Linked DNA regions of Homo sapiens. The protein of the gene in region 3 interacts with the protein of the main gene of each other region in a pairwise test. Each region holds a gene or a part of one and is shown on either strand. Other genes may lie near its edges. The genes, in order: CYTH2, CYTH3 and CNKSR1.

Region 1 (11,560 bases), on a different chromosome or scaffold from region 3:
CCGGTCTGCAGTGCTAAGGAGCTGGATGAACGGGCAGAGCAGGCTTCCCACAGCCTCAAGTCTAGTTTCCCCGGCTCTCTGACTGCATTTTGTTATGAGAATGAACTTGCTCTGAGCTGCTGCCAGGAGGAAGATGAGGACGATGAGACTGAGGAAGGGAATGGGGTGGAAACAGAAGATGGGGCTGCTAGCCCCCGAGTTCTCACACCAACCCTGGCGCTGACCCTGCCTCCATGATGCAAACTGATGTCCCCTTCCCCGTGTATGCCCCCTTCCCCAAGGTAGCAAGATGGAGGGATGGGGCTCTCTCCTGGGATGGGGGCAGGTGTTCCTGAATACCGACAGGCCTGCTGGGTAAATGACTAGGTGGTAAGGTTCTGCCATGCCTGGTGACCCACCATGGACATACTGGACCTTAATTCCTCTGCTTCTGTGCTCCCTCCTGAGAACCCTTTATGAGCCTGATTCCTCAGTCTCACCAGAATTCTGGATCACCCAAGAGGAAAAGACTGGCAGTTCTAGATTCCTCTATATGGGGAGACCTGGATTGTTGACCAGGGTGAGAAGCCAATGGTATAGACTGCCTCTGGGGAAGCAAGTTGGCAGTTCTTGAACAGCATCAGATATCAAGAGTTTGTAGGTCTGGATTCACCTAAGATTCAAGGGAGTGTTGCTTCTCAACTCAGCCAACTGAGTAGCAAATCATTTGTTCTAGACCACCTAAGGAGGGAAGGTTATGGAATGCCCCAAGTATTCAAGATCATCTTGATTGACCAAAGACCAAAAAAAAAAAAAAGACCTGTGGTTCCAGAAAGCTCATTAGTTGAGATTCTGTGAGTCTAGGTTGACCACAGAGGCAAGCACTGGTGAGTCTAGGACAGATTTTACGTGGAGAGTTGAACTACTCCAGAAACTAAAGAGTAATGTTTCTAGAATGCACAAAACATTGTTAGTCTGTGGGTTTAGAAAGACTGAAGTGACAGATTAAGAGTTCTTGATATTAGATAACTCCAACTTCTGGCTGTAGAGCACCCAGCCAAGAGAATAAGCAGTGCTTTGAAAGGATCCACTGGGTGGGTTGTTTTTTTTTAAAGTGCCATTCTAGAATGTCCAAAGGGAATCAGGATTCTGTGGCTGTAGACTGATCACAGAGTCAAGGAAGCAGTGGCAATTCTAGATATCTGAGATTTTGCTGGTTCCAGTTTGCCCAATGGAGTTGAGAATCTCAATGATTCTAGATGACTTCTTGTGGTTCTGTAATGCCAAAAGGAATGAAGGCTCCAGGGATACAGAGTTGTCCATTACCAAAGCCTGGAAGTTCTCATCACCTCCAGGTGGACTGCTTGGCAGTGCTAGGAGGTGGACTCAGGACTTCAGAAGCAACATTTCTGGCCTGACCTGGAAGGTGAAGGTGAAGGTGAGACCCTGTAGGGCACAGGGCTAATTAGTGGACAAGGGAAGGGGGAGGCCCAGGGCTGGTGAGTCTAGAATGCTCTGGAACCCTACACCTAGTGATGTGTGTCTATTTCTTTTTCTTTTTCTTTTTTTTTTTTTTTTGAGACTGAGTCTCGCTCTGCCGCCCAGGCTGGAGTGCAATGGCGTGATCTCAGCTCACTGCAACCTCCGCCTCCCGGCTTCAAGTGTTTCTCCTGCCTCAGTCTCCTGAGTCGCTGGGATTACAGGCATGAGCCACTATGCCTGGCTAATTTTTGTATTTTTAGTAGAGACGGGGTTTCGCCATGTTGGCGAGGTTGGTCTTGAACTCCCGACCTCAGATGATCCACCTGCCTCGGTCTCCCAAAGTGCTGGGATTACGGGTGTGAGCCACCATGCCCAGCCGTGTGTCTGTTTCTTAAAGATATTATACATATGTATATTATATATATGTAATATAAATACAGATATCTATCTATTTTTTCCCTTGGTCCCTACAACAGGCTTAGAGATGGAGTGCTAGCTAATTGGAATGAGGTCCTTTTCAAGGACCCCAGAAGCTTTGCTCTAAATCCCAATGCTGCCCCAACTTACTGTGTCACTTTGGACTCCTCTTCATGTCAGTTTCCCCATCTGTAAAAACGGGATATTGGAACTTGAAGTTCTTCAGGGGCCTTTCCAGCAGGATGAGTCCTCACTACACCAAGGGTGGGATGGGCATTCGAGTCCTGGGGATTTCCCTCCTCTCCCCAGTGCTGGATCATACGGCCTTCCAGGAGACGCTGGGATGTAAGATACTCTTGGAGGCTGGCTCTGAACTCGGGTGTCTGAATCACAGGGCAAGGGTAGGCGTGGGCTGTGGCTAACAGCCAGAGTCACTTCCCTGGCCTAGCTTGGGGACCTGGGGAGGAGGAGGTAGCTCTGGACACCAGGGTTCTTCCCATTGTGGGAGAGTGAGTGTTTTAGGGGGAGACCTGTCCCCCAGATTAAAGAACTGGGAGCCCTAGCGGATGTGTCTGCGAATGTGTTTCTCGAGCATGGGTCCTCCGACCTGGCCCCCTGCCCATGCTACCATCTACCTAAGTGCCCCGCAGGCTGGGAGCCAACTGCAGAGGGAGCCAGTGACAGTGAGGAGGACGTGTTCCCACCCCGTGTTCTGGACCGAGGGCAGCCACTGTCATTGCCATTCAGCCTTCACAAGTGCTGCATCAACCCAAATGCCCCCTCCAGCTTCTCCATCTCCCTTTATCCCTCAGAATCCCCATGTAATAACCGGATGGGATTAATTAGCTGGCTGCTCTCTCAGCTCAGGGTGTCTGGGGTAGGTAGGGATGGGGGCAATGGAAACGCAGGGTTGGGGAAGGATGTTAAGTTGGAAGTGAAGGGGCAGGGAGGGGGTTTCGTTTGAAAGGAGTATGGGAGCAGGGCAGCCCAGCCTGGGTTTCCACTGGGGAGGGCAGGGCCTGGGCCACTCATAAAGGTCAGTGAGGGGATTAGGAGCCTCCATGTCTAATCCGACAGCTTAACTAGGTCCTGGCCCTGAATCCGTCTCCACCTGCCCAGCCCAGGGACAGCAAATGAGGACGAGGCCCAGACACCACTTCAGCCCCCATTACGGCTTCCCTCTTTACAGGGGTGCCTGGGTTCCCTATTCCAGCCAGTCCCTTGACCACATTCCGTTACAAATAATGGGACATAGAGGCTGGGGAAGGGGAAGGGGAAGGGGCCTCAGAGGAGGGAGGAGTTTAAGAAGGGCAAGGGTGGCTGGGCACGGTGGCTCACGCCTATGGGCACGGTGGCTCACGCCTAGCACTTTGGGAGGCTGAGGCGGGTGGATCACCTGAGGTCAGGAGTTTGAGACCAGCCTGGCCAACATGGCGAAACCCCGTCTCTACTAAAAATACAAAAATTAGCCGGGCATGGTGGTGGGCGCCTATAATCCCAGCTCCTTGGGAGGCTGAGGTAGGAGTATCGCGTCAACCTTGTGGGTGGAGGTTGCAGTGAGCTGAGATCATGCCAGTTCATTCCAGACTGGGCAAAAGAGCAAAACTCTGTCTCAAAAAAAAAAAAAAAAAAAAAAAGGGCAAGAGTATGAGAGGACAAGGGGGACCGTGACGTGAGGGGAGCCAGAGAGGAAAAAAGGCCTCTGAGATGGGAGAAGGAATCAGAGAGGTGGGAGGATGCTGAGGAAAGGGGAGTTGTCTTAGCAGGAGGATGCTTGGGGAAGGGAGGAGTCTTAGGAGGATGCTAAGCTAAAGGAAGGAGTTTGGAGAAATGAGGGAGGAGTCTGAGCGGCAGAAGGTGCCAGGAAGGCCGAGCCTGTGCTTTCACTAAATTTCACCTTCCCCTGTTCCATTCCCCATGACCGATACCAAATAGCATAGCATTTAGAAAAAAGTAAATCTTGGCCAGGCGCGGTGGCTCACGCCTGTAACCCCAGCACTTTGGAGGGCCAAGGTGGGCGGATCATGAGGTCAGGAGTTCGAGACCAGCTTGGCCAACATGGTGAAACGCCCGTCTCTATTAAAAATACAAAAAATAGCCAGGCATGCACCATCATGGTGCAACCCTGTAATCCCAGCTACTCGGGAGGCTGAGGCAGGAGAATTGCTTGAACCCGGGAGGCGGAGGTTGCAGTGAACCGAGATCGCGCAACTGCACTCCAGCTTGGGCGACAGAGCAAGACTCTGTCTCAAAAAAAAAAAAAAAAGAAAAAACGAAGAAGTCTTTTGTTTCACCACTCCACGACTCCGAAGAGGCTGAGGGGGATGGGGAGGGCATAGATGGTGATAAAGAAGGAGTTCGGCGGTAAGAAGGGGCTGAGAGGAGGGGAAATACGCGGAGAAGAAATGCAAAAGAAAAGGAGGCCTAAAGCCGCTCCCGGTTGCATGGCAACCTTTGCGGTCAGAAGCCAGCATGGCCTGCTAGGAGGTGTGGCTTACGGAAACAAGCCAGTTCTAGCCCCGCCTCCTAGCAACAAGACTAACAAAGTACCGCCCCCTAGCAACGTATTATCGGAGGCGGGGCTCGGTTTACCTAGACTCCAAGTGTCCAGGGCCTTTGAGCAGGCGCAGAGGTGGCTGTACCGCGTGGCTCCGCCTCCGCGCGACACTTTTCCGGGGCTTCTCATTGGAGAGCAAGCCTGTCAAGTGCTTTCTGTTGTTTCGGAGGCGGGGCCTGCTGCCCTGCCTGCACTCCGATTGGCCCCGCGGGCCGTCTACCTCTGGCCGGACATACCTACACCGGCTTTTTGTACGACTGTTGGCCCTGGAGAACGATCCTTTGGTGGCGAGGGCGGGGAGGACGAAAGCGCCCACTGTGGATTGGACAGTGTCAAAAAGAGGGGCGGTCCCTACTGAAGGGGCGGTTGGGCGACGAAGGGAAGAGTCTTTTCAGCGCTGAGGACTGGCGCTGAGGAGGCGGCGGTGGCTCCCGGGGCGTTTGAGCGGGCTCACCCGAGCCCGCGGGCCAACGCGGATCCAGGCCCGACTGGCGGGACCGCCCCGGATTCCCCGCGGGCCTTCCTAGCCGCCATGGAGGACGGCGTCTATGGTAGGTCGGGGAGGGGCGGGGTCGGCTGGGAGTTGCTGGAGCGTTTTCTCCTGAACGTTCCGCCGCGAACGTTTCCCCCTGGCGCGCGGCGCCCAGAAGCGTTCGGCTCAGTCGTAGACTTGTCGCGCCGCTTTTGTTGGGCGCTGGACGGGCTTCCGGCGGGGCCCGAAAGCCGGGCGTTCCAGGCCATTGTTTGGGCTGAGCCTGTTTCCGGTGGCGGCGGGAGGGGCGGGATGGAGTGGTGGAGGCGAGGCCGGGGCGGAACCATTCCCGCTGGAGGGGCGGGCGAGCCCAGCGCCTGCCGGGGCCGGGGAGGGGCGCTTGGGTTGCGGGGAGGGGAGAAATCTTGGGGGGCGGGGGCCTTCGATGTCCCGCCCCACCTTCCCAACTCTCCTGAGCTGTCATCAGTTCCCCCGGCTGTAGTGACTTTTCATGGACCCAGTAGTCCGGATAACCAGGTCCCCAGCTACCTCGCCAGTAATGGAGTCAGAAAACCAAGGCCTCAGTCCCCTTCCAAGTAATGGACCTAGAAGCCGAGGCCCCCAGCCCTTTCTTCCCTCAGATCTAAGAGCTCAGGCACCCATTCCCCTTCTCCCTCAGACTCAGGAATCCGGGCCCCAATTCCCCTTGTCCCCCAGGACTCAAGAGTTTAGAGCCCCAGCTCTTTCTCCTCTGCAGGGAGGAATCCAGGCCCCCAGCCCATTCTTCTGTGCAGACATAGGAAGCCCCTTACACATCCTCTCCCAGCTCTGTCCGCCCCCAGATTGCAGGAATTCAGGCTCACGGCCCCTAGCACTGACTTTTAAACCTTGACCCCGATCCCTAGAACCCCCAGACCTGACTCCGGAGGAGCGGATGGAGCTGGAGAACATCCGGCGGCGGAAGCAGGAGCTGCTGGTGGAGATTCAGCGCCTGCGGGAGGAGCTCAGTGAAGCCATGAGCGAGGTGGAGGGGCTGGAGGCCAATGAGGGCAGGTGAGGGCTGGGGCGGATGACCTAGGGGGCGTGGGGTTGGCTGAGGCCAGGGATGCCCAGGCATTGACCCTCCACCCCCAACCCTGCTCTCTGCTCCTGCAGTAAGACCTTGCAACGGAACCGGAAGATGGCAATGGGCAGGAAGAAGTTCAACATGGACCCCAAGAAGGTGCTTGGGGCCACAGGACTGGGATCAGCTGGGCAAACATCCAGGCAGGGGCTTCTGGCACCTCCGGGTTCCAGAAGCGTGATGGTGCCGGGTCTATTCTAGGTGGACAGACTTGGTCCTAATCCCTGGATTCAGATACTGGCTGTCCATTTGTTTTCTGAACACTGAACACTGACCAAGTGTTCCAGCCCTCCTGACTGTTTTGTCCCCTGCCTGGAAGGTCGTCTTCCACTTTCTACTTGTATGGGCGCATTTCTGGTCCCAAGATGAGCTCGAGTCTTGTAGGGGCTGTGGACAAAGTGACATGCACAAAGGAGAGTTGACCTCTCTCCCACAAAGGTGCCGTGACGGAGGAAGGTATCAGGGTAGTGGACCTCTGGAGGAGGCAGGCTGGTGGAGTCAGGGAGGGCTTCCTTGAGGAGGAGACATTCAGGTCGGGTTTGAAGGATGAGTAGGTGTTCACCAGGTGGAGGAAAGGCTTTTGTTCACCTACTCTTTGTGTGTGTGTGTGAGACAGAGTCTTGCTCTATCACCCAGGCTGGAGTGCAGCGATGTGATCTCGGCTCACTAACCTCCGCCTCCTGCGATTCTCCTGCCTCAGCCTCCCAAGTAGCTGGGCTTACAGGCTCCCACCACCATGCCCAGCTAATTTTTGTATTTTTAGTACAGATGGGGTTTCACCATGTTGGCCAGGCTGCTTCCAAACTCCTGACGTCAGGTGATCCGCCCGCCTCAGCCTCCCAAAGTGTTGGGATTACAGGCATGAGCCACCGTGCCTGGCCTGTTCACATACTCATTTAACACCCATTTTCTGAGGCCTCTCAAGAGTCTGATCCTGTGTAGGGCAATGCTGGGGACCCAAAGAAGAATTAGATGCTGCCTTGTGCTCAGAGAGCCCTTGGACACCGATACCACAGTTCACAGTGAGATAAAGCAGTAGTAGAGAGGTCTTCGTAGCACAGAGAGTGAGAGAAACCTCCAGTCTAGCCAGGGCTTCGAGTTCACAGCCCTTGAAGGACTGCGTCTGCTAACAGGTTGTCACGTTATTCTTTCCTGAAGCAATTGGAATTCTGTTCAGTCATTCAACAAACATTGATTGGCTGGGTTCGGTGGCTTATGCCTGTAATCCCAGTGCTTTGAGAGGCCGAGGAGGGAGGATTGCTTGAAGCCAGGAATTTGAGACCAGCCTGGGCAGCATAGTGATAACTCATCTCTAGAAAAAATATAAATAAATAAATTAGCCAGGTGTGTTGGGGCATGCCTATAGTCCCAGCTTCTGAGGAGGCCGAAGTGAGAGGATCCCTTGAGCCCAGCAGTTCGAAGCTGCAATGAGCTGTGATCACGCCACTGCACTCCAGTCTGCAATAGAGCGAGACCAGGTCTCAGAAAAAAGAGAAAATGTACTGAGCACCTGTGCCTTGCCAGACCCTGTTGTTGGTGCTGGAATTAACCAGGCAAAGGCAGAGAGGGTAGGCCATGAAGTGCAAAGGCCATGAGTTGGGAAGAATGCTATTTAAGACCTGTGAGAAGGCTGAAAATGAAACCTGGCCCTGGTCTGTTGAGGGTGGGGGTAGGTCTGGATGCTGAGGTTCCCAGGGAGGTGAGTGGGGTGGCTTTCTGGCCCTCAGCACTGAGACCTTGTCCCCACCCACCAGGGGATCCAGTTCTTGGTGGAGAATGAACTGCTGCAGAACACACCCGAGGAGATCGCCCGCTTCCTGTACAAGGGCGAGGGGCTGAACAAGACAGCCATCGGGGACTACCTGGGGGAGAGGTACGGTCACCACTCAGCTCCTGTGGGGCCCCTCCCTCCCACCCCCCAGACCCAGCTCCTGCCCTCACACTGGCAGCTCACAGGTGGAACAGCCCTGCAGCCTCCCCGCAGAGGGGCCCTGGCAGATCAGCCTTCTGACTGGACTGTGACAGAATGGACTGACATGGGCTAGGGGAGCCTGCGGCCAACCGAGAGCATCTGGGGATGTGGGGCCTTCTGGAATTACCTGGCAGTTGTGGGGAAGCATCCATTTATGTCTGAGAAGGGTAGAGAACATCTCTCAAGGATCATGGGAGCTTGAGAACCGTGGGTAGACCATGGCTGTGCATAGGCACTGGGTGGCCATCTGGGAGCTGTGGGGACCGCTGGGCCCTTGTGGGAGCTTAGGAGTTGTGGGGGTCATTTGGAAGCCTAGGGTGCACAGGACTGGACATCAGATGATTGGAGGCCATCTGTGGACGTCTGGGAATCAGGGATTTATAGAGATCTGGGGTGCTTGGGAAGCATCTCTGGATGTCTGGGGGATGTGGGGGCTGTGTCTGGATACCTGGGGAGCATGGGGATCATTTGAGAGAGGTGACAGTAGGTAGCATACATGTTTGCGGCATTTCTCCCAACTGTACAAAGGTCTGGCCTAAGCAGGGTTCCCAAGCCAGATATTCCTCCCAAGAGTGTGTTCTGAGCATCCCCCACCCTGGGGGCAGGCCTGTGTGGGAGTCCAGCAGGAAACTTCACCCTCGGCAGTGGGCAGCTGTGGTGCAGTAGAGGGGGCACGACTTCCCCAGGGCATTGCCCTTTGCCCATTCCTGCCCCATCCTTTCCAAACTGTATGTGTCTTTGTCCCATCCTTCCAGGGAAGAACTGAACCTGGCAGTGCTCCATGCTTTTGTGGATCTGCATGAGTTCACCGACCTCAATCTGGTGCAGGCCCTCAGGTGAGTGAGGGGGAGGGGTTTGGAACGCCAGGAATGTACCTGTCAGGGCCTTCCTAGTTACAAGTGACAAACCTTACTCAAGAAAAAAACAGAAACAAGCAAAACAGAAACAAAAACTAGGGAACTGAGTGTGTCCTGCACCATAAAAGTTCAGGGTTATGGCCTCCTTCAGGTATGGCTATATCCAGGAGCTCAAATGGTGGTCAGAAAGTCGACTTTCTTTGCCTCTTGTATTTGCCACTGTGTCAGCATTGCTCTCTGCAGACCCGCTTACCTGATAACAAGCCTCAACCAACCCCCAGACCTGTCTAGCGAACTTAGCAGAAAGAGGCTATTTCTGTAGGGATTCACAACACTCCCGTGGCCAATGCCCATTGGTGAGACTGGATCATGTGACCATACCTGAAACAACTGCTGAGGCCGGAAGGTCGGGATTCCTCGTGGACCAGTTCCTAACACAGGGACTGAGAGTGGGGACAGGCTCCCACCAGCCCTGGCATCCATTCCTGGCCCCTCCCCAACCCAGGCAGTTTCTATGGAGCTTTCGCCTACCCGGAGAGGCCCAGAAAATTGACCGGATGATGGAGGCCTTCGCCCAGCGATACTGCCTGTGCAACCCTGGGGTTTTCCAGTCCACAGGTGCGGGCCCCAAATCCTGGGTCCTGGGAAAGAGGAGACTGGGGCCCAGACTCCTAGGTCTGAGGGAGGGAGGGGGCTGGGAGCTGGGAATCCTGGGTCCTGGGGAATGGGGGCACTGGGGACTGACATGCCTGGGTCGTCACCACCTGCCCTGTCCGGTGCAGACACGTGCTATGTGCTGTCCTTCGCCGTCATCATGCTCAACACCAGTCTCCACAATCCCAATGTCCGGGACAAGCCGGGCCTGGAGCGCTTTGTGGCCATGAACCGGGGCATCAACGAGGGCGGGGACCTGCCTGAGGAGCTGCTCAGGGTCAGTCCCCCTTCCCTGCCCCTCAGCCCTGCCCCTCTTCCTGCCACAGACACCCCCGCCCCACCTGTGGTCTCCTAGTGCCCAAGCTGTCTGCCCTCACCCCCAAGATGGTGCGATCATGCCAACTCGTGTGTGATCTTTTTCTCTCTCTCTGGGTGCTTCTCTTCTTGACTGTCTCTCTCAGGCTTTGGCCCTGACAATTTTGGCCTGTCTGTCTTCTCTGTCTCTGGCTGTTGGGCTTTCCGGCCCTCGATTGGCCTCATTCCCCATCTGTCTGTTTCTCTGAGGACGTAGCCGGCTCCTCCACCTATCACCAGGGCATCTCTTCTTTCCTCCGCCACCTCAGCCTCCCTCCACTTCTCTGCCTTTCACTTCCCTCTCCTCCCCACTACCCCTCTCTCTTCCCCACTATGAGTCATCCCATCCCTGGTCTCGCTGCCCCCCACCCTGAGTAACCCTGGGGGGCCCCAGGGGGCTCGAATGGCTAATGCAGCCTTTACTCCTCAGAACCTGTACGACAGCATCCGAAATGAGCCCTTCAAGATTCCTGAGGATGACGGGAATGACCTGACCCACACCTTCTTCAACCCGGACCGGGAGGGCTGGCTCCTGAAGCTGGGTACGTGCCCTCCCGACCCCGCTGGTCCCTCCGCAGGAGGACATTTGTGGGCCTGGGCCCTGGACTCAGCTTCCGCACACACCTGCTGCCTGAACTGAGGCAAATGATTCGACCTCTCTGAACCTCAGTTTTCCACACCCAAAAAATGGGGCTGAAAATAAAATCAGGCCTGTGTGCTGGGCCTGGCCTGTAGTAAGTACTTCCCAACCCCTTCTCTTGACCCACAAATGTTGATGGAGCCCTTCTGTGCCAGGCCCTGAGCTGGGCTGAGGAGGCAGTGAGAGGCAGCTGACATTGTCCTTTCGTGGGAGAAGAGTTCACTCAGGCTTCTTTCCACTGCGTTAACCCAGCCCGAGGGAGCCAAACCCCTGGAATCTATTCCCCTTGGCAAGAACTCCCAGGGTTCCAGGCAGGACTGACCCCGCACTCCGAGGCATCAGGCCCAGAGCACTTGGCTGATCCAGGTGCCATCCTTCCCGAAACACCACCCACAGGCAGAAAAGAGCCAAACAGGCCAGGAAACCTGTCCCAGATTCTGGCTTCCAGCTGTGGAGGGAATAGCCAGGGCTGGTGCAGATGAGTCGGGAAACCCAGCAGAGATGGAGGGGGGAGTCTTCGTCATAACACGTGGCACTGGCACATTCAAGGTCGGTTAGCATGGATCAGACAGGATCGTAGCATGATGAGGGGTTAGCACAAGGACTAGAGTGGTTCTCAGCCCTGGCTGTACATGAGATTTGCCTGGGCAACTCGAAAACTCCGGTGGCTGGGCCATAGACTCCTGAAGTCAGGCTCTCAGGAGCAGAAGGGCCATCAGTCATCGTTTAAGCTCCTCGGGTGCTCCCAATGCATAGTCAAGGTTGAGAGCTACTGGCCTGGAGCCGTGCCTGGTAACAGTAGGTGCCACCTGCGTGTTAGATGTGGTTTATAATGGAGACACGGTGCACAGCTGCTCCAGAGAGACACATCTGGGCAGTTACAGTCCAGCACAGCAGTGGAGGCTTCCCGCGGCAGCAGGAGAGCCCACAGGAAGCTTTCAGCTCAGTGAAGGGAGTCAAGGTCAGGCTTCTTGGAAGGAGGTTGGACAGGGCAGCTTTGGCCTCTGAGTCTTGGGGGCCTCCCCATGTGGAACTGTGCTCTTAAACCAGGGC
Region 2 (10,732 bases), on a different chromosome or scaffold from region 3:
CAGGTGTGCCCGGAGCCAGGTGTGCTCCCGAGTGGGTCGGGTCGATGCGCGTCGTGGCCCAGGTGGTCTGTGTCTGACGTTCGGTTTCCTCTTGCTGGAGGAATCGTGTTTGTTGGAAATTATTTAGTGGAATACAAATGACTGCTGGGTCATGCTGGGAATTAGATTTTAAAAACAGAGGAACGTGCCTCTGTATGGAGTGGGTGTTCGCTTTGGAAAGCAAAGGGTTAATGCCCGTGTTTTTACAGGAACAGCCGAAGTTGAGGTTCTCTAGACTTTTTTTTTTTTTCCTGAAGATCTCCTTTGAGCTGACAGAGAAATCATCAGAATCATCAGAACCCCATGTAATAAGGGAGCAGTTTAGAGAAATCTTAATTACAGGCTGCCGGTGCAGCTGCCTGTAAGAATCAGCAGTATTGAATGCTTCAGGATGAAGTGGTTCATCATCAAGGTGCCTTCCAGAATTCAAGTGCTGCTCAGAGGGAGATGTTTTTTTGCTGAAAGACGCGATGCAGCCAGGATGGTGGGAAGTTGGCACCCGTCATGGCATTTGGCGAGTTCAGTTCTTATAGTTGAAGCTAGGGGTAGCACTGTGGCACCGAGTGGGTGTGTTGATGGGAGCGCTGTGGAACGAAGGCGCCCAGTTGCGAACCCTCCTACAGTCAGGCTGTCTGGAGCCATGAGATCCTAAGGAATGGGTTCCCGGTGGATGTCGTGTTTCCTGCCTGTCACAATTTGGGCATAGCTGTTTTCCCTTGTTAGAAAAGAAAGACAACTGTAATATGCAGACGTTGGACATTAGCGTCAAGGCAGCTAGCTGGCTTGGCAGTTTTGTTTGTAAGGTGCTTTGGGCTCTGTGAGTAAAGAAATGTAGACTTGAAGATTAAAGCAGGAATAAAGAGGAAAAGAGGAGGCTTTAATGTGCTCCAGCAATTTGCAGGTCTTGAGTACTATAACAAAGGATGATATGAAGTATCAAAAGTCTTAAAATTGTCCTTGGGTTGTTAGTATCTCTTCTGGGAATATATCACAGGGAAGCAACCTTGAAATAAACCCCTCACGTATAAAGATGTGTATTATGCTGTTTAAAATAGCAAAAAATTGGAAACAGCAACGCCAACAGCAGGGGCATGGTGAGGTAAATTATGGGAAGTTTATTGAAGTATTTTACAACCATTAAAATAAGCAGTTTTATACATCATGGTTTAAACAACATAAACATTGGTGACATTATGGATTATTTTATTTTCTTTTTATATTTTCCAGGTTTCTGGAATAAGTGTGTATTTCAGATTGGAAAAAAACCATCAAAGACGTGAATGTTTTAAGTGTATCATTTAATTCATCTCACTGGAACATTCAACAATGAAGATTTATTTATTGATTGCCCATCAAAATGCTAGCCAGCATGTTAGGTGCTGGAAAATAACTTTTAACCTTTATTGATTTAGTTTATGACTAGCTTTCTCCCTTGCTTTGTGACAGACACTTAAAAATATTTTTGGCAATATTAGGATATTTATTTTTGAAACAGGTGAAAAGCAAAGTTTTGAAATATGAGTGATATTGTAATTATTGTATAAACTTTATGTGCTTACATTTAACTCTTGGCTGTTGTAAGTTTTGAAGTTAACATACCTCTTTACAGTTAATACCTTTTAGATTTTTAAATGCTTTAAAATTCATGTTTAAAAAAATAAAGTTGAGCTCTTTTAAAGAAAACCGTTTCAGCTGCCAGCAGATTATAAAGCATAACATTTTTTGGTATATTTTTAGAGTGTAGTACATAATGTTGAACTGTATCTGGGGGAGTCAGTTAAAGCTTGTTTAAAAGATAGGGTAAATAATCTATTCAAACAGTAGTTATGGTAGAAGCCAAAGATAATTGAAAAGGTCTTTTTTTTGTTAATGGTCAGGTTAAAAGACTTGAAAAATTGATTCCTACTTGCTATTTTTATAAGTTAATTTAGCTTTTTGTCCACTGTATTGTTCTTTCAATGCAAGATAAGGAGAGAGAGGATGGTGGCATGAATGGCTGGAAGGCAGTTACAAGAGGAGCGAGTGGGGGGCACAAGATTACAAGAACACATTGTTCCTTACAGTGTGTGCAGAGTGTAGTTAAGTCGTTTTTAATTCCTATGGGACTTTGTTGCCTTTCAGTTTTTCGAGAACAGTTCTTGAGCTAATTGGAGGGTAGCTGGCTAGTTTGGCTCATTGGGATTGTCTTCGTGTCCTGTTTGGGCATTTGTCTGATTGATGGTCCTGAATGGACCATCCCTGGCAGATGAGGTGAATTAACTATAATTGGCATTCTTCTCTCTGACCCCTTCACTCCCTGATCAATGTAGGTGTCTGTGCTTCAGGTGAAGAGATGCTGAGCCTTGTTCATAATAAAATACATGCAAATTAAGACTAGATTGAGCTCCCACCTTTCACCTTCAGACAGGTGATAACCCCCAAGTATACAAAGTCTGTTTCAAGTTTGAAATATTTGAACGGCAAGGTCGTTTCAAACATTTACGGGTAAGAGTGTAAAGTAGCCACAGGCAGGGTCAGCCCATGTCCTGTTGGCTCAGATCCGTTTCTTGCCCTTTCCCTGCAGGGACTCACCCCTGCAGGCAACATTTCCCAGGCCCTTGGTCAGCTGGCTTCCGGCTGGGATTGGCCACTGGGAGCCACTGGCAGGAGGAATGGCAGGAAGAAGGACAAAAACAGGTTATTTCCCTTAGGCCTGCCTCAGGGAGTGTCTCTGGCAGGTACCTTGTCTCCTTTTGGCTCCAGCTCCTGCCCCTTGGTCCTAGCCTTTGAGTCTTGGAAATACCTCCTCCCTTTTACCCTCTATTTGAGAAGTGGTAACAGCAGCTTGCTCTTGATAATCTTTGTATTATCATTTCCTGTTTGGCTTTTCAGTTTTTCCATCACCCCTGTCACTAATTCCTTATATTAAATTCCCTCTATATCAGATTCTTAAAGGGATGGTTTCTCTGGATGTCTCTGTTTCTCTGGGTGGACCCTGATAGATACAGGTGCTTTAGGCAGTAGCTTTAAAAATTACAGGCGTGTAAATCCTTTGACCCAGCAATCCAGTTCTAGGAATTTAACCTGCAGATATATTTGTACACGTGTGAGATAACATAGGTACAAGATTATTTATTGCCTTGAGTGTCCATCAGCAAGCAAGAGACTTATCAGATAAATCCATGCCCAGATGGTTAATGAGGTTGTAAAGTTGTAGAAAGGAACGAGGAAGCTCTTTTCTTAGTTGACATGGAGAGATCTCCAAAATATCTTAAGTTACAAGAGCAGGCCGGGCGCGGCGGCTCTCACCTATAATCCTAGCACTTTGGGAGGCCGAGGCGGGTGGATCATTTGAGGTCAGGAATTCAAGACCAGCCTGGGCAGCATGGTGAAACTCCGTTTCTACTAAAAAAATACAAAAATTAGCCGGGAGTGGTGGTGCGTGCCTGTAATCTCAGCTACGCGGGAGGCTGAGGCAGGAGAATCGCTTGAGCCTGGGAGGTGCAGGTTGCGGTGAGTGAGATTGCGCCACTGCATTCCAGTCTGGGCAACAGAGTGAGACCCTGTCTCAAAAAAACAAAACAAAATTACAAGAGCAAAGTGTAGGAAAGTGTGCATTGCGTGCTCCCATTCTTGTGTTTTGAAAGAGGAGGTAATGGCTGATGCATGCAGATTCCCTGGAAGGTGAAAGGAGGAACCAATAACAATGGTTACCTGATTGGGGAAGATGATGGGAACTGAGTGGATGGGGAATATAGGTGGGAAGGAAACTTTTCACTATGCGCCTTTTTATTTTTTGAAATTCAAAAAAGTTTGAATAATCTGTCTTCACTTTTTCTAAAATTGGAAAGCAGTTTCATAGAAAAATAGTATGATGGTAAGAAAATACCCATTTTACACCTTTTTTGAGGGAATTTTTATAGATTAAAAAATACAGCTGGGCGCAATGGCTCACGCCTGTAATCCCAGCACTTTGGGAGGCCAAGGCGGGTAGATCATGAGGTCAGGAGTTCGAGACCAGTCTGGCCAATGTGGTGAAACCCCGTCTCTACTAAAAATACAAAAATTAGCCGGGCATAGTGATGCGCACCTGTAGTCCCAGCTGCTCGAGAGGCTGAGGCAGGAGAATTGCTTGAACCCTGGAGGCAGAGGTTGCAATGAGCCGAGATAGCGCCACTGCCTGGCGACAGAGTGAGACTCGGTCTCAAAACAAACAAACAAAATATTCTGGGAAGACCGCAACAAAAAGATAATGTGATATGCAATGTAAGGTTATAAAATGTTACCTATTTTTCATTCTGTAGTAAGTTAACTACTGTATTTTTGAGAGTTTAAAAAGTGGATGCTTTTAGATTATGCTTAGAGTATATTCTTTTGTAGTCATTTACTCAAATGTTGATGGTGTCTCTACCAAATACCAGGTTCTATGCATGGCACAAGAGCTATTAGTGCCTGTGTCATGCCGTTTTTGCATTGCTATAAAGAAGTACCTGAGCCTGGGTTATATATAAAGGAAAGAGGTTTCATGGACTCATGGTTGTGCAGGCTGTAGCTGTACAGGCATGGTGCCAGCATCTGCTCGGCTCCTGGGGAGGCCTCAGGGAGCTTTTTACTCATAATGGAAGGTGAAGCAGGATCAGGCACATCACATGGCTAGAGCAGGAGCAAGAGGGAAGAGATGCCACGCCCTTAAACGACCAGATCTCAGGAGTCCTCACTCACTATTGCAAGGGCAGCACTGAGCCATGAGGGATCTGCCTCCATGATCCTGTCGCCTCCCCTCCAAGTCCTGCCTCCAGCATTGGGGATTACAGTTCAACATGAGATTTGGGCGGGGCATATATCCAAACTGTATCAGTGCCTAACAGTGGTGAATACGGCAGATAAATTTCCCACGTTCATGGAGCTCATGTTTAGATGGAGAGACAGACAAAAGAGGTAAACAGCTATATATAAAATAATCATGTATTATGCTAGATGTGTTAAAGGAAATCAACAAGAGGTTGAGGAAGAGAAAGTGTGGGATGGGAGAGGTGTAGGGAAAGCCCGTGGCCAGGGAAGGCCTCTGAGGAAATGCCCTTCGAGGTGCAATCTATAGGGGTAGTGGACCAGACAGAAGGGAAGGCATGGAGCTGGCAAGAGCTGAGTATTCTAGAGAATTAAAAGCAGCTTTGTGTGGCTTGAACAGACAGTGAAGCGGGAGAGATAGACTGGGGCCATGTCAGGCTTTCAGTAGCTAAGGAATGCAGATTTTATTCTAAGTACATGAAGCCGCTGAAAGATTTTTAAACGGGGAAATCTCATTTGATTTACATTTCAATAATTTTAGCTAATATTTACTTGATGCTGTATGTCCTGTGTACTTTCTGCGTCTTAATTTATTGACTCTTCATCATATTGCTATTTTCAGATTGGAAAATGGAGGCATAGGGAAGCTAAGTAATTGGTCTGAAATTTCACAGCTAGCAGGTGATGGAGCTGTGATTGGAACCCAAGCCTTCCATTTCAGAATCCGTATTCTCAACCACTGCCCCCTGCTTTTTAAAGAAGCATATTCTTGACTCCTGAGTGGAGAGTGGTTTGGAGGAGAAGGGAGGACTTGGGAGAAGGGAGGTGTTGCAGTGGTTCAGGTGAGAGTTACGGGGCTTGGTGGGTTAGGGTGGTAGTGGGAAATATGGAGGGAAGGATATATATAAAACACATCTGTATAAAACATACAGAAAAGTACAAAGAATAATGAAACCAGCACTCTTGTTCCCACTACTCAGAATTGACATAATAGCTGTCAATGTTCTGTTGCATTTTTTAGGTCCGTTTTTTAAAAAATAAAGCATTACTGGTAAGTCTCTCCATCTCAGTATATTGTGGTGTTCTTCCAGTTGCTCAGGCCAAAATTTTGGTGCCATCTTTCACTTCTTTTGCCTTAAGCCTTCTCATGGTTCTCCCATTGTCATCCTTGTTCACACTGCAGCCAGGGCGATTCCCTTTGACACGCAGGTCATGTCACTCCTCTCTGAAAGTTTGCTCTTTCCTCGGTTTATTGAGAATCCTATTCTCAGACCACCTTACCATGGCCATGGCCCACACGCTGTAGTTTAGGGGCTGCAAGTTCTTCTTCTTCTTTTTTTTTTTTTTTTTGAAATGGAGTCTTGCTCTGTCACCTGGGCTGGAGTGCAGTGGAGCGATCTCGGCTCACTGCAACATCCGCTTCCTGGGCTCAAGTGATTCTCCTGCCTCAGCCTCCTGAGTAGCTGGGACTACAGGCGCGTGCCACCATGCCCGGCTAATTTTTTGTAATTTTTTTTTTTTAATAGATACGGGTTTCACCATATTGGCCAGGCTGGTCTTGAACTCCTGACCTCGTGATCTGCCTGCCTTGGCCTCCCAAAGTGCTGGGATTACAGGCATGAGCCACCACGCCCAGCCAAGCTTTTTTTTCATAAAAGGGCCGGATAGTAAACCTCATAGGCTTTGTGGGCCACATATGATCTCTGTCACAAGTCTTTTTTTTTTTCATAACCTTTTCAATATGTAAAAAACATTCTGACCTTGGGGACTGCCCTTGACTACTACTCTAGTCCCCTGCTATCTCTTTGACATTGTCTGTTGCTCCTCTCCCGTTTCCTCCCTGACTCTGCTCTGTCTCATTGGTCTCCTTGCCAAGCACACTCCTGCCTCAGTGCCTGTGCACTTGCTGCCCCTGTAGTGGTTTCCTCTTAGATACCTGCATGTGGTGTATCCTTGCTTCATTCAAGTTTGTGCTCAAATGTTTCCTTATCACAGAAGTCTTCCTTGACCAACCTATCTAAAATCACATTCATTGTTACTGTCAGCTCTATTTTTCTCCCTTAGCACATGTCACGCCTTACCTATTACATATTTGTTTCTTTTCTCTTACAATGTGAGTTCTGTGAAAGTAAGAATATTTTCTGCTTTTATCCAGTTATATCTCCAAGATCTAGAACAGTGCTTGGTACATAGTAGCCTTTCAGTAAATATTTGTTAATAAATACTGAATAAAGTTGAAGTCACTTGTGTCTAGCAATCCCTGGTCCTTTTGCTCTTTGCTTTCAATGTTTCTTAGAGGCAGCCATTATGAATTCGATATGGGGCCCTCTGGTGTATGGTGTTTTTGTTAGTTTTTTGAGATGGAGTCTCACTCTGTCACCCAGGCTGGAGTGCAGTGGTGTGATCGCAGCTCACTGCAATCTCCATCTCCTGGGTGCAAGCGATTCTTCTGCCTCAGCCTTCCGAGTAGCTGGGATTACAGGCAGGCGCCACCACACCCAGCTAATTTTTGTAATTTTACTAGAGACAGTGTCTCACCTTGTTGGCTAGGCTGCTCTCGAACTCCTGACCGCAAATGATCCACCCGCTTTGGCCTCCCAAAGTGCTTGGATTGCAGGCATGAGCCACCGTGCCCAGCCTGGTATATATTTCATACTTCAACAGATGTGCGTGTGCCTCTGTAAGCAATGTACAGGTCTCCTTTTTGTTTTTTTTTCTTTTGAGACGGAGTTTTGCCCTTGTTGCCCAGGCTGGAGTGCAATGGAGCCATCTTGGCTCACTGCAACCTCCGCTTCCTGGATTCAAGCGATTCTTCTGCCTCACCCTCCTGAGTAGCTGGGATTACAGGTGCCCGCCATCATGCCCAGCTAATTTTTGCATTTTTAGTAGCGATGGGGTTTCACCATGTTGGCCAGGCTGGTCTTGAACTTCTGACCTCAGATGATCTGCCGGCCTCAGCCTCCCAAAGTGCTGGGATTACAGGTGTGAGCAACCGCACCCGGCCCTAATTGGTTTTAAAAAGATTATAAAGCCGAGATCACACTGTATGTAATCTTCTGCAGCTTGCATTAGAGATTATCCTTGTGATTATATATAGACCTTGTTTAATTTAACTGCGATCACGTTTTGTCTATCTTGTCCTGTGTTGAACTTTTTTTTTTTTTTTCCTGAAGTTAGTGTCCTCACTCTGTTTCCCAGGCTGGAGTGCAGTGGTGTGATCTTGGCTCATTGAAACCTCTACCTCCCAGGTTCAAGCGATTCTTCTGCCTTAACCACTTGAGTGGCTGGGATTACAGGCTTGCAACACCATGCCCTGGTAAATTTTTAGTATTTTTAGTAGAGACAGGTTTTTGCTACGTTGGCCAGGCTGGTCTTGAACTCCTGACCTCAAGTGATCCGCCTGCCTCGGCCTTCCAAATTCTGGGATTACAGGTGTGAGCCACCGGGCCTAGCCCTGTGTTCAACTTTTTAATGTCAATGTTACACTGGTGGTGTTACAAACGGTACTGAGGTGAGCTCCCTAGTCTTCTCTCCCCTCACAAATGTGAGTTTATCTAGAGTATATTTCTAGAATTGCAGTTGTGAGTTATAGGCATGCTTCAGTTTTAATAGATAACAGATTGCTTTCTCATTAGGGGCTTGTGAGTAGTGTGATTTCCCAGCATTCTAATCAGCACACAGTGTTTGCCTTACTTTTAAATATTTACCTATCTCATGGGTAAGAAATGATGTATTGCTTTAATTTGTGTTGCTTTATAGTGACAAAATATATATTTTAAAAGCTGTTATATTAGGTTCAGGGGTACATGTGAAGGTTTCTCGTAAGTGAGCTCTTGTTATGGGATGGAATGTATTTTGGAGAATCAGATGGACATACTGTCAGCTTGGAGAAGGTTAGAGGTATAGAAACTGTAGGAATCAAATATGACTTTAGGTTTCTGGCTTGGTAGTGGTGTTGCTTAATGAACAGGGGAAAAAACTATTGTGAGGGTTCATTTTTTTTTTTGGTCAAAAATGCCTTTACTTTGCCTCCACTTAAACACAATTTTTTTATTAGAGTCGCGCTCTGTTGCCCAGGCTGGAGAGCAGTGACGCCATCATAGCTCACTGCAGCCTTGAACTCCTGGGCTCAAGCAGTCCTCCTGCCTCAGCCTCCCGAGTAGCTAGGACTACAGGCATGTGCCACTGTGCTAAGCTTGCCTCTGTTTTTGAAGGATAGTTTCATCAGGATTATAGTTGGAGGCTTTCAAGTTAATTTATTGCAGTTTTTAATTTTTTGTAAAGATGGGAGGTCTCACTATGTTGCTCAGGCTGGTGTTGAACTACTGGCCTCAAGTGATCCAAAGTGTTGGGATTACAGGCATCAGCCATTGAGCCTGGCCTTCCTACAGTGTTTTGAAGGGGTAGTTTTACTGCTTTCTGGCTTCCACTGATTCTGTGGAGAAGTCAGCTGCATCAGTCTTATTGTCACTCTTTTCCAGTTAGTGTGTTTTTTCTTCCCTTTAGGCTGCTTTTAAGATGTTCTCTTTGGGTTTGGTTTTCAGCTGTTATGTGGTGTGTCCAGATGTGGTTTTCCTCAAGTGTATCCTGCTTGGGATTAGTTGTTCTTTTTCTTCTCTTTGGCAGTGCTGTGACAAAGCTTGATCTTAAATTAGATTTACAGAATTCTTGTTCATTATCTCTTCATTGATTGCTTCTGCTGCATTTCCTGTCTCATCTCCTTCCAGGACTGTAATTACCTGTGCATTAAACATGCCCTCTGTGTCGTGTCCTGTATGTCTTAGATTCTTTTCTGTGTCCTTTATCCCTTTGCCTCTCCATCGTTCACTCTGTATCTTCTTCTGACTTATATTCCATTGTAGTAATCCTTTCTTCAGCTGTAATTGCTGTTGAACTCGTTTATTGAGTTCCTAATTTCCATTATTGTCTTTTCCAGTTTTCTTGATTTTTTTTAAAGATTCCAATTTTCTGCTGGCATTTTTTATCTTGTCAACTGCTTTATTGTATGAATCAGAGTTATTTTAAAGTCTGTGTCTGATAACTCCGATATTTGGATGCCTTGTAAGTGTGTTCTGTTGTCTGTTTTATCCTTGGTTTTCAGTCATGTGATCTTGATTCTAGATATGCCTGTTGAGCTTTAATTAAATTCTGGACAATGTATGTGAAAAATTATAGAGATAATTCAAGACCCTGCCTGTTGGCTTCATTTGAGGATTTGGCAGGCAGTTAAAGTAAGGGAATATCACTTTGCCCTTTTTTTTTTTTTTTTTTTTTTTTTTGAGACAGGGTCTCACTCTGTCGCCTAAGCTGAAGCACAGTCAGGCTCAAATGATCCTATGATCCTCCTACCTCAGCCTCCCAAGTAGCTGGGACTACAGGCACATGCCACCATGCCCAGCTAATTATTTTTTATTTTTGTAGAGCCAGGGTCCCACTATGTTTCCCAGACTGGTCTTGAACTCCTGGCCTCAAATGATCTGCCTGCCTCAGCCTCCAAAGGTGCTGGGATTACAGGCCTGAGCCACCTCACCTGGCCGGAATATCACTTTAAAATTATGAGGCATGGTCTATTCTGGTTTACCCTTCTTCTAGGTTATAGCCTTTAGTGGTTCCCACTGAAAGCTTGGGTTGCTTCCCAGGGCCTCTTCTACTTGGCAGCCCCTGAACTCTAATTTTTGTCCCCTCAGTCCCCTAAGACTGGTGGCTATTCTGCTGACCTTCTTGGATTCTCAGTCACTTGTTTCTGTTTGGTATTTTGGCTTCCCAGCTTCTGCTGTGAATTGGCGAATCCCTCAAGGAGAAAAGGGGCCCCGGTGATTGGGCTCACTTTTCTGCACTCCCCTTTTCCCTCTGGAATCCTGGCCTCCAGAGTCCTCACTGCATGGGTAGCTCTCTGATGCCTTCAAACAGTTGTTTCTAATAATTT
Region 3 (9,208 bases):
CTGACACACAGAGCCAGGAAATGATTTGCTCAGTCTCTGGTGTCATTTTCCCCGCTCCACACCCTGAGCTCCTAGTGACAGAAGCAGAAGCCCTAGGCCAGACTGAAGAGGTTGACACAGCCCCACCCTGGGGCTCCTATCCAAGGGGCAAGGTGCTGTCCAGGCTCAGCGAGCCCACACAGATGGGAAGCAACACACCCCACAGGCAGACTCAGAGAAGGAAGGGCCTCCTGACACACAGTGCGACCAGGAGCAGGCAGTCAGGACACCCCTCCCAGAGTGGGGAGCTGGAGCGCACTAGAGACAGGCTCAGGAGGACCAGCCCGGGTAAGGGCAGGAATTCAGGGCTGGGTTCAGACTCCCAGGCTGGATTCCAGGCCCACCCCCACCGCTTGCCAGCTCTGTGACCATAGGTCTTAGTTTTTCTGTCCATCAAATGGGAAAGGCAACTCTGACCTTATGAAGTCGACAAAGTGAGACAATCATGACATAGTTCATTTGTAGCTCAATGCCTGGGTCTATTGGGAGGGCACCAGCCCAATACAGTCACCGTGCAGGAAGGAGGTGGCTCAGGGGCCCATAGCCAGGGAGTGATAGGTTCATGAACTCCCAGTCCAGTGCTCTCAATGTGACACAGGGAACACACACACACACCTCCCCCAGTGAAGGAGCCTGGCTTAGAAGGGGAAGAATTCCTTCGAAGAGTGAGCAAGCTACTTAACCTCTGTGTCAGTTTTCCCATCTGTAAGCAGGATAATGATAGTCTTTACCTCCTAGAAATGCAGTGAGAATCAAATGTGTTAATATGTGTAAAGCTCTTATAGATTTGCATAGCACATAGTAAGCCCTCAATAGACACTTTTCTTATTTTTCAGTGCCTACCTTGTCCAGGCACAGGCCGGGGGTTAGAGACAAATGGTTATCTAAGGCCTGATCTTTGAAGAGCCTGTGATAAAATGGGAAAGACCGATGGTCAAGTGCAGGGGTTTGTGGAGGCTCAGGGGCAGTGGGAACAAGAGGAGAGCCCTCCATCCCACTCAGCCTGGGAAGTTATGGAAGGCTTCCTGGAGGAAGTTAGATGAAAAAGGAAGTGAAGGAGATAGAAGAGCAACGCCAGCAGGAGGAATAGCACTTGCAAGGACGCTGAGGTAAAAGGGTGTTCCAGGAGCTGCAAGGAATTAGCTCTGTGCATCTGAAATGTTGAGTTTAGGGGGCTCTTCAGGATATGATGCTGGAAAGGGAGGTAGTAGCCTAATCATACAGGGCCTGTAGGTCATGGTAAAGTCTGGCAATAATAATATGATGGCTATTATTGGCTGTCTCCCACGAACCAGACAGTGGCCAAGGCCTTGACATATGTTGTGTCATTCAATACACACATGATTAGAAGGTAGGTACTTTTATTATTCTCACATTACAGGTGAGAAAACTGGGCACAGAGCAGTGCTATTACTTGCTCAAGTGTTCACAGTGTCTCAGTGACTCCATAGCCTCTTGTTCTTATCCCCTGTATCATTAGTTCTCAAACTTAAGGGAGCATCACAGTCACCTGCATTAAAATACAAACTGCTGGCTGGGCGTCGTGGCTCACACCTGTAATTCTAGCACTTTCAGAGACTGAGGCAGTCAAATTGCTTGAGCCCAGGAGTTCGAGACTAGCCTGGGCAACATGGTGAAATCCCACCTCTGCAAAAAATACAAAAATTAGCTGGGTGTGGTGGTGTGTGCCTGTAGTCCCAGCTACTTGGGAGGCTGAGGTGGGAGGATGGATTGAGCCTAGGAGGTCAAGGCTGCAGTGAGCCGTGACTGTGTCTCAAGCCCCTGTCTCAAAAAGAAAAAACAAAACAAAAACAAAAAAAAGACTGCTGGGCCCCAACCTCAGAGTTTCTGATTCAGCAGGTGTGGGGTGAGGCCTGATAATTTGCATTTCTAACAAGTTCTCCGGTGAGTCTGCTGCTGCTGGTCTGGGGGCCACTTTTAAGAACCCATGTCCTATACTTTCCTGCTTCTCAACTCAGTGGCCTCATCTGTGAAATGGGCAGAACAGCCTGGGTGTCAGAGTTGTCATTAGGGTTAGACTAGAGGGAAAAGAGCTTTGCAGGCATGAAGAACCATCCCAAAAGGTCCTGACACCTCTGCTTCCCCGAGCTGAGCCTTACTCTCCCTCCAGGTCTTGACGACTCCCTGCAGGACTATCCCTTTGAGGACTGGCAGCTGCCTGGCAAGAACCTGCTCCAGCTCTGCCCCCAAAGCCTCGAGGCTCTGGCTGTGCGGTCTCTGGGACACCAGGAGCTCATCCTGGGCGGGGTGGAACAGCTCCAGGCCCTGGTGAGTGAATGCTGGTCACACTGGCTGCAGCTTCCACCAACCTGGGGGGTGTGATGGGGGGCTGGCTGCTGCCAGGGAGGTGACTTGCCCTCTTTCTGGCACAGAGCTCCAGGCTACAGACAGAGAACCTGCAAAGCCTGACAGAGGGACTTCTGGGGGCAACCCATGACTTCCAGAGCATAGTCCAAGGCTGCCTGGGGGACTGTGCCAAGACCCCTATTGATGTCCTCTGTGCAGCTGTGGAGCTGTTGCATGAAGCTGACGCCCTCCTCTTCTGGCTCAGCAGGTACCCGGGTTGGGGTGACGAGTGAGGGACTATTGTCATCCTTGGCCTCCTTCAGGGCGTGGGAGAGAAAAACAGATCTTGGCTCTTGTTCAGATATGGTGAGCCAGGCGTGGTGGCTTAGGTCTGTAATCCCAGCACTTTGGGAGGCCGAAGCGGGCAGATCACTTGAGGTCAGGAGTTGGAGACCAGCCTGGCCAACATGGTGAAACCCCATCTTTACCAAAAATATACAAAATTAGCCAGGTGTGGTGGTGCGCACCTGTAATCCCAGCTACTGGGGAGGCTGAGGCAGGAGAATCACTCAAACCTGGGAGGTGGAAGTTCCAGTGAGCCGAGATCATGCCACTGTACTCCAGCCTGGGCGACAGAGTGAGACTCCCTCTCAAAAAAAAAAAAAAAAAAAAAAAAGATATGGTGGAGCAGGGCAGAGGGATTAATCCACCTGTGCAGGGGCACTGGGATGCCAGAGTTCCCACCCCACCCTCCAGCTTGTAATAATCGATCTCATCAACAACCACTGAATGGAGAGCCTCCCCAACCCTGTGCACTGGCTGCTGCTTGTCCTACAGACCCCACCTCAAATGTCATCTCGGGGAAGCCTTCCCTGTTGTACACTCTCCAAGCTATACTATTAATAAATAATAAATAATAACTTATTATAAACTCATTATCCAATGTTTCATGATACTCATTACAGCCAAAGTTAAATTGATATTGATGTATGATGTCTTTACTGTCTGTTTCCCCAGTGCCTAGAACAGGGCTTGGCATGTGGTAGGCACATGACAAATAAGTCCTGTGCTAATCTCTTTAGATGTCTCAATCATCTCCTTTACTCTAAACCAAAACCCATCAGAGCAGGTATTATCCCCAAGTCTCTGAGGTGAGTAATTGGTGAGTAATTGGCTCTGAGTGGTTAAGCATAGTCCCTTAACCACTGTGCTATTCTTCCCCTGCCAGGTACCTCTTCTCCCACTTAAATGATTTCTCAGCATGCCAGGAGATCCGAGACTTGTTGGAGGAGCTGAGCCAGGTCTTGCATGAGGTAGGAGAACCAAGGGCCAGGCTTGGCCCATGCCCTAGAGACCAAGCTGGGCTAGAGCTTTTTATAACCTGTGAATCAGCCCAGGATCGAGTATGAGGATTGAGACGGGCGAGAAAGGAGGAGAGGAGGCCCTGCCACTGGGTATGGGACAATGGGGCCTGGGGTCCCCTAGCTGGCAGGGGAATTTTGACACTCAGGACAGGGAAGGAGGGGAGGGCACGTGTGGTGACTTCTGGGGGCCTGGTATCAGGGAAACGAGCCCTCTGGTTAAAACGCTGAGGCCCTGTGGTTCTGGGCAGGGGGCCAGTGTAGGGAAGGCAGGGAGGGACTGTACGGAATCCCACCCTGCCCCCAGGAGAAGGCAGTCCCCTTATGGCCCTTGCTCAGGGGAGGCCCCTGCTCTCTCATTCTACTTCCAGGATGGTCCAGCGGCTGAGAAGGAGGGCACAGTCCTGAGGATCGTGAGTCTGTGGGGTGGGAAGAGAGTGGGGGTAGGGGCGATCGGGCTCAGGCTACATAGCCCGCTCCCCTCCCCCAGTGCAGCCACGTGGCTGGGATCTGCCACAACATCCTGGTCTGCTGCCCCAAGGAGCTGCTGGAACAGAAGGCCGTGCTCGAGCAGGTGCAGCTGGACAGTCCATTGGTGAGCCCTGCCCTCCCACCTCTCACTTCTGACCCCTTGGCAGCCTTGTCTGGGCCCTGAAATAGGGTCCAGGATCCCACAGAACCCTGTGCTGCCATGGCTGGAAAGCCTTTTTTGTACAGATGCTAAAATGGAGGCCCAGAGGATTGGCCAGGGTCTCCCGTTGCTCTGCACCTCCCCAGTCCTGAGGGGCCACGCGGGTGTGGCCTCAGGTAGTGTGTTCCAGCCTTGGGATGGAGACGGGGCAGGGGCTTGGGGGCAGTTAGGAGAAAGGGAGAGGATGTGACCTTTCTTGGTTTAATCTTTGACCAGTGGGGAAGACCAGAGCCCTATCCCTGCCCTGTCCCTGCTTGTCCCTTTAGGAATGTTGCTGAGAAGCTGGTACCTCAGAAATCAGGGTCTCCAGCTTCCCTCTGGCTCTTAGCAGAGGAGAAGGCAGAGGCCCACAGGAGTAGCAAGTCCAAAGTCATACAGCAAGTCTGGGCAGGACCAGCTTGGGGTCAGCTCTTGCCACAGTTCCACCCACCATAGAGTCCTGGTGTCTGGCGGGGGTCCTGCCTATTGGCCCTGTTGCCCCCCAGCCCCCGGTGACTATAGCCTCTGCCTCTGCAGGGCCTAGAAATTCACACCACCAGCAATTGCCAGCACTTTGTGTCCCAAGTGGACACCCAGGTGAGAGCCCCACACCCTTCTCAGCCGCCCATCCCCGAGGCCTCTCACCTGCAAGCCAGGCCAACCTCAGGCCCCATTCCCCACGTCAGGTTCCCACTGACTCCCGACTGCAGATCCAGCCTGGAGACGAGGTTGTCCAGATCAACGAGCAGGTGGTGGTGCGTGAGGAGAGGGACATGGTAGGAGGTGAAGGGGTCACCGAGTGGAACCCAAGTCTGGTGGGTGGGGAGGCAACCAAGGGTTCTGACCAGGGTTGTGGGAGCTGCCTTCCAGGAGATGAGCCAGCTAAGTCTGGTGAGAGCATCCTCTGCAGAGCCCAGGTGATGGGGCCCATGGAAGCCCCCAGGAGGCTGCATGAGTGGGAGGCAGAAGTGGGAGGCTGAGAGAGAGCTCCCAGCACGAGGGTGAGAGTTGGTGGTTGCTTTAGAGCCTCCTGCCCAGGTTGATACCAGCCAGTGTTTCTGTCCCCCAGGTGGGATGGCCCCGTAAGAACATGGTGAGGGAACTGCTGCGGGAGCCAGCCGGACTCAGCTTAGTGCTGAAGAAGATCCCGATACCGGAGACCCCCCCACAGGTACCTTCCCCTGCCGCCCCCCGACCTGCCTTCAGACCCCCCCCTCCACAGGTACCTGCCCCCACCACCCCCACACCTGCCTTCAGACCCCCCCCAACAGGCACCTTCCCCTGCTGCGCCCCCCTAGCTCCCTTCAGACCCCCCCACAGGTACCTGCTCCTGCTGCTCCCCTACCCCTGTTGCCCCCCAACCTGCTTTCAGACCCCTGTCTCCATTGCTTTGTTCCTGGTTGTTCCCCAGACGCCCCCTCAGGTCCTGGACTCCCCGCACCAGAGGAGCCCATCACTGTCTCTGGCCCCACTGTCTCCCAGGTAACAGGCTCTGTCCAGGTGTGTCTTGGTGGGGAGACCGTGGGCTCATCTCATCCCCCTTGCCCTCCCCAGGGCCCCATCTGAAGACGTCTTTGCCTTTGACCTGTCTTCAAACCCCAGTCCCGGACCCAGCCCTGCCTGGACAGGTAGTCTCAAAGCTCCATGGATGCCCCGGACACGGCATCTGGGCACCCAGTTCTGACCCCAAGCCTGGGACTGGGCTCATAGACTTTCCCTCTCTCTCCTCCCTCCCTGACAGACTCTGCCTCCCTTGGCCCTGAGCCCCTGCCCATCCCCCCGGAACCCCCAGCCATACTCCCAGCAGGGGTAGCAGGGACTCCAGGGCTCCCTGAATCCCCTGACAAGGTAAGCTCAGGGGCTTAGCAAGGGGGTGGGTGGGTCTGGACCTAGATCCTTCTCTCACCCTTCTGCTGTCCTTTCAGAGTCCTGTTGGTCGGAAGAAATCAAAAGGTATGAGGTGCGCTGGACTAGGTGGGGGTTCCCCTGTTTGAGGAGCTGTTAAAAATCTTTACATGCTGGGCAAGACCACCCCCATCCTTCCCACACAGCCTCTCCTGGAAACAGCTCTGTTTCTAGGGTCAGACAGAGCTGTGCTCCCAGTCTGGGCCTCTCACCAGACTAGAGGCTAACCTGTTTGCTGTGACTGAGCAAACAGGTTAGCCTCTAGTCTTCAGTTTGCTCATCTCTAAAATAAGAAGGGTCATCCCACCTCAGAGATGACACATGTAGCATTCTGAGCAGAGTGTGGGTTCAGAGATCTCACTTGGGGATGCTTGTGGAAGGCAGGGAGTAGGTTTAGCGGGGGCACCTTGCCAGCCCCTCACTGCCCAGCTTGTGCTGTGCTGCTACAGGCCTGGCGACCCGGCTGAGCCGCCGGCGGGTGTCATGCCGTGAGCTGGGCCGGCCGGACTGTGACGGCTGGCTCCTGTTGCGAAAGGCACCGGGCGGCTTCATGGGCCCGCGCTGGCGCCGCCGCTGGTTTGTGCTCAAGGGACACACGCTCTACTGGTACCGCCAGCCCCAGGTAAGACCCCATACACAAAAACAGGTAGGCAAGTGAGTCACTTCCAGGCCTCGATTCTCATCTCTATTCTATCATCCACTCTTATTCCTGGTCCAAGGCTTTGATGTCCCCATCTGTAAAATGGGGACTTTATTCAGAGAGAAATGAGTTAATATATGTATAAAAGCAGTTTGGAAAAGGTATCATAGGAGGTATAGAGAAAAATCTTTTTTTTTTTTTTTTTGGAGACAAAGTCTCACTCTGTTGCCCAGGCCGGAGTGCAGTGGCATCATCTCGGCTCACTGCAAGCTCTACCTTCCGGGTTCACGCCATTCTCCTGCCTCAGCCTCCCGAGCAGCTGGAACTACAGGCGCCCGCCACAACGCCCAGCATATTTTTTGTGTTTTTAGTAGAGACAGGGTTTCACCGTGTTAGCCAGGATGGTCTCGATCTCCTGACCTCGTGATCCACCTGCCTCGGCCTCCCAAAGTGCTGGGATTACAGGCGTGAGCCACCACACCCGGCCCTGAAAAATCTGGGCAACATAGCAAGATGGAGTCTTGCTATGTTGCCCAGCCTTGTCTCAAACTCCTGGGCTCAAGCGTTCTGCCTGCTTCAGCCCGCCAGAATGCTGGGATTATAGGCGTGAGCCACCACATCTGGCCGAAAAATCACGTCTATTCTGCCCACTTCTCCTTATCCTTCTGATATTCTGTCCATCCGAATGATGGGCCATTCATTTACTCATTTATTCATTCAGGATTCAGGTGCCTACTGTGAACCCAGCTCTAGGCTGGGCACTATGGACACAGAGAAGAATTGGATGATTTTTGCTTCTCCAGAACTTAGAGGCTAGTAGGGGAGAGGGATGAATACACACTCAAGGACAATGTAGGGACCGTGTGCTAAGATAAAGGGAAAGCCCAAGGGATATGTGGGAGCACAGCAGAGGTGTCCAGTCCATCCTGAGGAGTCCAGATGCCCCCTGACAATGCAATACCTGGCAGTTAGTTGCATGGGAAGGGGAAAGAAAACCAGGAAGAGAAAGCAGCATTCAGAAAGCTCAGGGGTGTGAAGCAGTTTGGTTTGTGTCTACTGAAGGAACAAATGCATGAGCAAGCTCTTCTTGTTTGGTTTTTTGGTTTTTGTTTTTGAGACAGAGTCTTGCTTTGTCACCCAGGCTGGAGGGCAGTGGCATGATCTCAGCTCACTACAGCCTCAGCCTCCCAGGTTCAAGCGATCCTCCTGCCTCAGCCTCCTGAGTAGCTGGGACTACAGGCACATGCCACCATGCCTAGCTAAGTTTTTTGTTTGTTTTGTTTTGTTTGAGACGCAGTCTCGCTCTGTTGCCCAGGCTGGAGTGCAGTGGCGCAATCGCAGCTCATGGCAACCTTTTCCTCCCAGGTTCGAGCAATTCTCCTACTTCAGCCTCCCGAGTAGCTGGGATTACAGGCACCTGCCACCATGCCTGGCTAATTTTTTGTATTTTTAGTAGAGATGGGGTTTCACCATGTTGGCCAGGCTGGTCTCGAACTCCTGACCTCATGATCTGCCCGCCTCAGCCTCCCAAAGTGCTGGGATTACAGGTGTGAGCCACCACACCCGACCTAAGTTTTTAATTTTTTGTAGAAATGGGCTTTTTTCCCAGTCTGGTCTCAAACTCCTAGGCTCAAATGGTCCTCCTGCCTTGGCCTCCCAAAGTGCTGGGATTACAGGCATGAGCCACCATGCCCGGCCTTCAGGCTCCTCTTTTTTTTTTTTTTGGCTGTTTCTCTGATATCTTTGGCTCCCCTTTCCTGGCTTAGAGGCATCCTTTGGCCACATCTCCTACCCTGACCCCAGATTCCAGCCCTGAGCTCCAGAAACAGAGAGACTTGTTAGAGAGCCCAGGAGATGCCTTCTCCTCTCCACAACTCTCAGGAGCCCGAGGGGTAACTAGGAGCTGACTGGGCCTTGAGGGTATTGGGGTTCCAACCTGACCCTCATGCTGTGATCCCCCCAGGATGAGAAGGCTGAGGGCCTCATCAATGTCTCCAACTATAGTCTGGAAAGTGGACATGATCAGAAGAAGAAATAGTTAAGTCTTGGGGTGTGATGGGCTGGGGGATGGAGACAGAAAGGGAGAGGAAGGGTGATGGGGTAGCAGTGGGAGGTGTGGCAAGTGGCTGGGGCGCCCAGAATCCAGCCTCTCTGGGCTGTGGGTGGGCACGCCCAGGCTGAGTGATGCTCCTCCACTACCTGGCAGTGTGTTTCAGCTCACCCATGATGTGTACAAACCCTTCATCTTCGCTGCTGATACCCTGACAGATCTGAGCATGTGAGTGC

What was found.
Region 1: the proteins of CNKSR1 (region 3) and CYTH2 interact in binary tests that used the Homo sapiens proteins (3 or more experiments, as listed by UniProt).
Region 2: the proteins of CNKSR1 (region 3) and CYTH3 interact in binary tests that used the Homo sapiens proteins (3 or more experiments, as listed by UniProt).

Annotation. Positions count from the first base shown.
Region 1 is NC_000019.10:48,464,541-48,476,100, forward strand, and holds the start of CYTH2 (cytohesin-2), read left to right. Parts: upstream 1-4,828; 5' UTR 4,829-4,967; coding exon 4,968-4,986; exon of another isoform or gene 4,987-4,993; intron 4,994-5,098; exon of another isoform or gene 5,099-5,418; coding exon of another isoform or gene 5,419-5,503; intron 5,504-5,812; coding exon 5,813-5,960; intron 5,961-6,062; coding exon 6,063-6,129; intron 6,130-7,784; coding exon 7,785-7,903; intron 7,904-8,757; coding exon 8,758-8,838; intron 8,839-9,364; coding exon 9,365-9,477; intron 9,478-9,641; coding exon 9,642-9,790; intron 9,791-10,297; coding exon 10,298-10,409; intron 10,410-11,560. Other genes in the region: KCNJ14 (ATP-sensitive inward rectifier potassium channel 14), read left to right, coding at 1-237. UniProt on the Homo sapiens protein: Acts as a guanine-nucleotide exchange factor (GEF). Promotes guanine-nucleotide exchange on ARF1, ARF3 and ARF6. Activates ARF factors through replacement of GDP with GTP.
Region 2 is NC_000007.14:6,261,043-6,271,774, reverse strand, and holds part of CYTH3 (cytohesin-3), read left to right. Parts: intron 1-10,732. UniProt on the Homo sapiens protein: Promotes guanine-nucleotide exchange on ARF1 and ARF6. Promotes the activation of ARF factors through replacement of GDP with GTP. Plays a role in the epithelial polarization.
Region 3 is NC_000001.11:26,178,283-26,187,490, forward strand, and holds part of CNKSR1 (connector enhancer of kinase suppressor of ras 1), read left to right. Parts: intron 1-2,170; coding exon 2,171-2,328; intron 2,329-2,432; coding exon 2,433-2,614; intron 2,615-3,574; coding exon 3,575-3,659; intron 3,660-4,078; coding exon 4,079-4,120; intron 4,121-4,197; coding exon 4,198-4,302; intron 4,303-4,914; coding exon 4,915-4,974; intron 4,975-5,063; coding exon 5,064-5,132; coding exon of another isoform or gene 5,133-5,153; intron 5,154-5,446; coding exon 5,447-5,548; intron 5,549-5,788; coding exon 5,789-5,859; intron 5,860-5,931; coding exon 5,932-6,005; intron 6,006-6,118; coding exon 6,119-6,225; intron 6,226-6,302; coding exon 6,303-6,330; intron 6,331-6,731; coding exon 6,732-6,904; intron 6,905-8,885; coding exon 8,886-8,959; intron 8,960-9,128; coding exon 9,129-9,200; intron 9,201-9,208. UniProt on the Homo sapiens protein: May function as an adapter protein or regulator of Ras signaling pathways.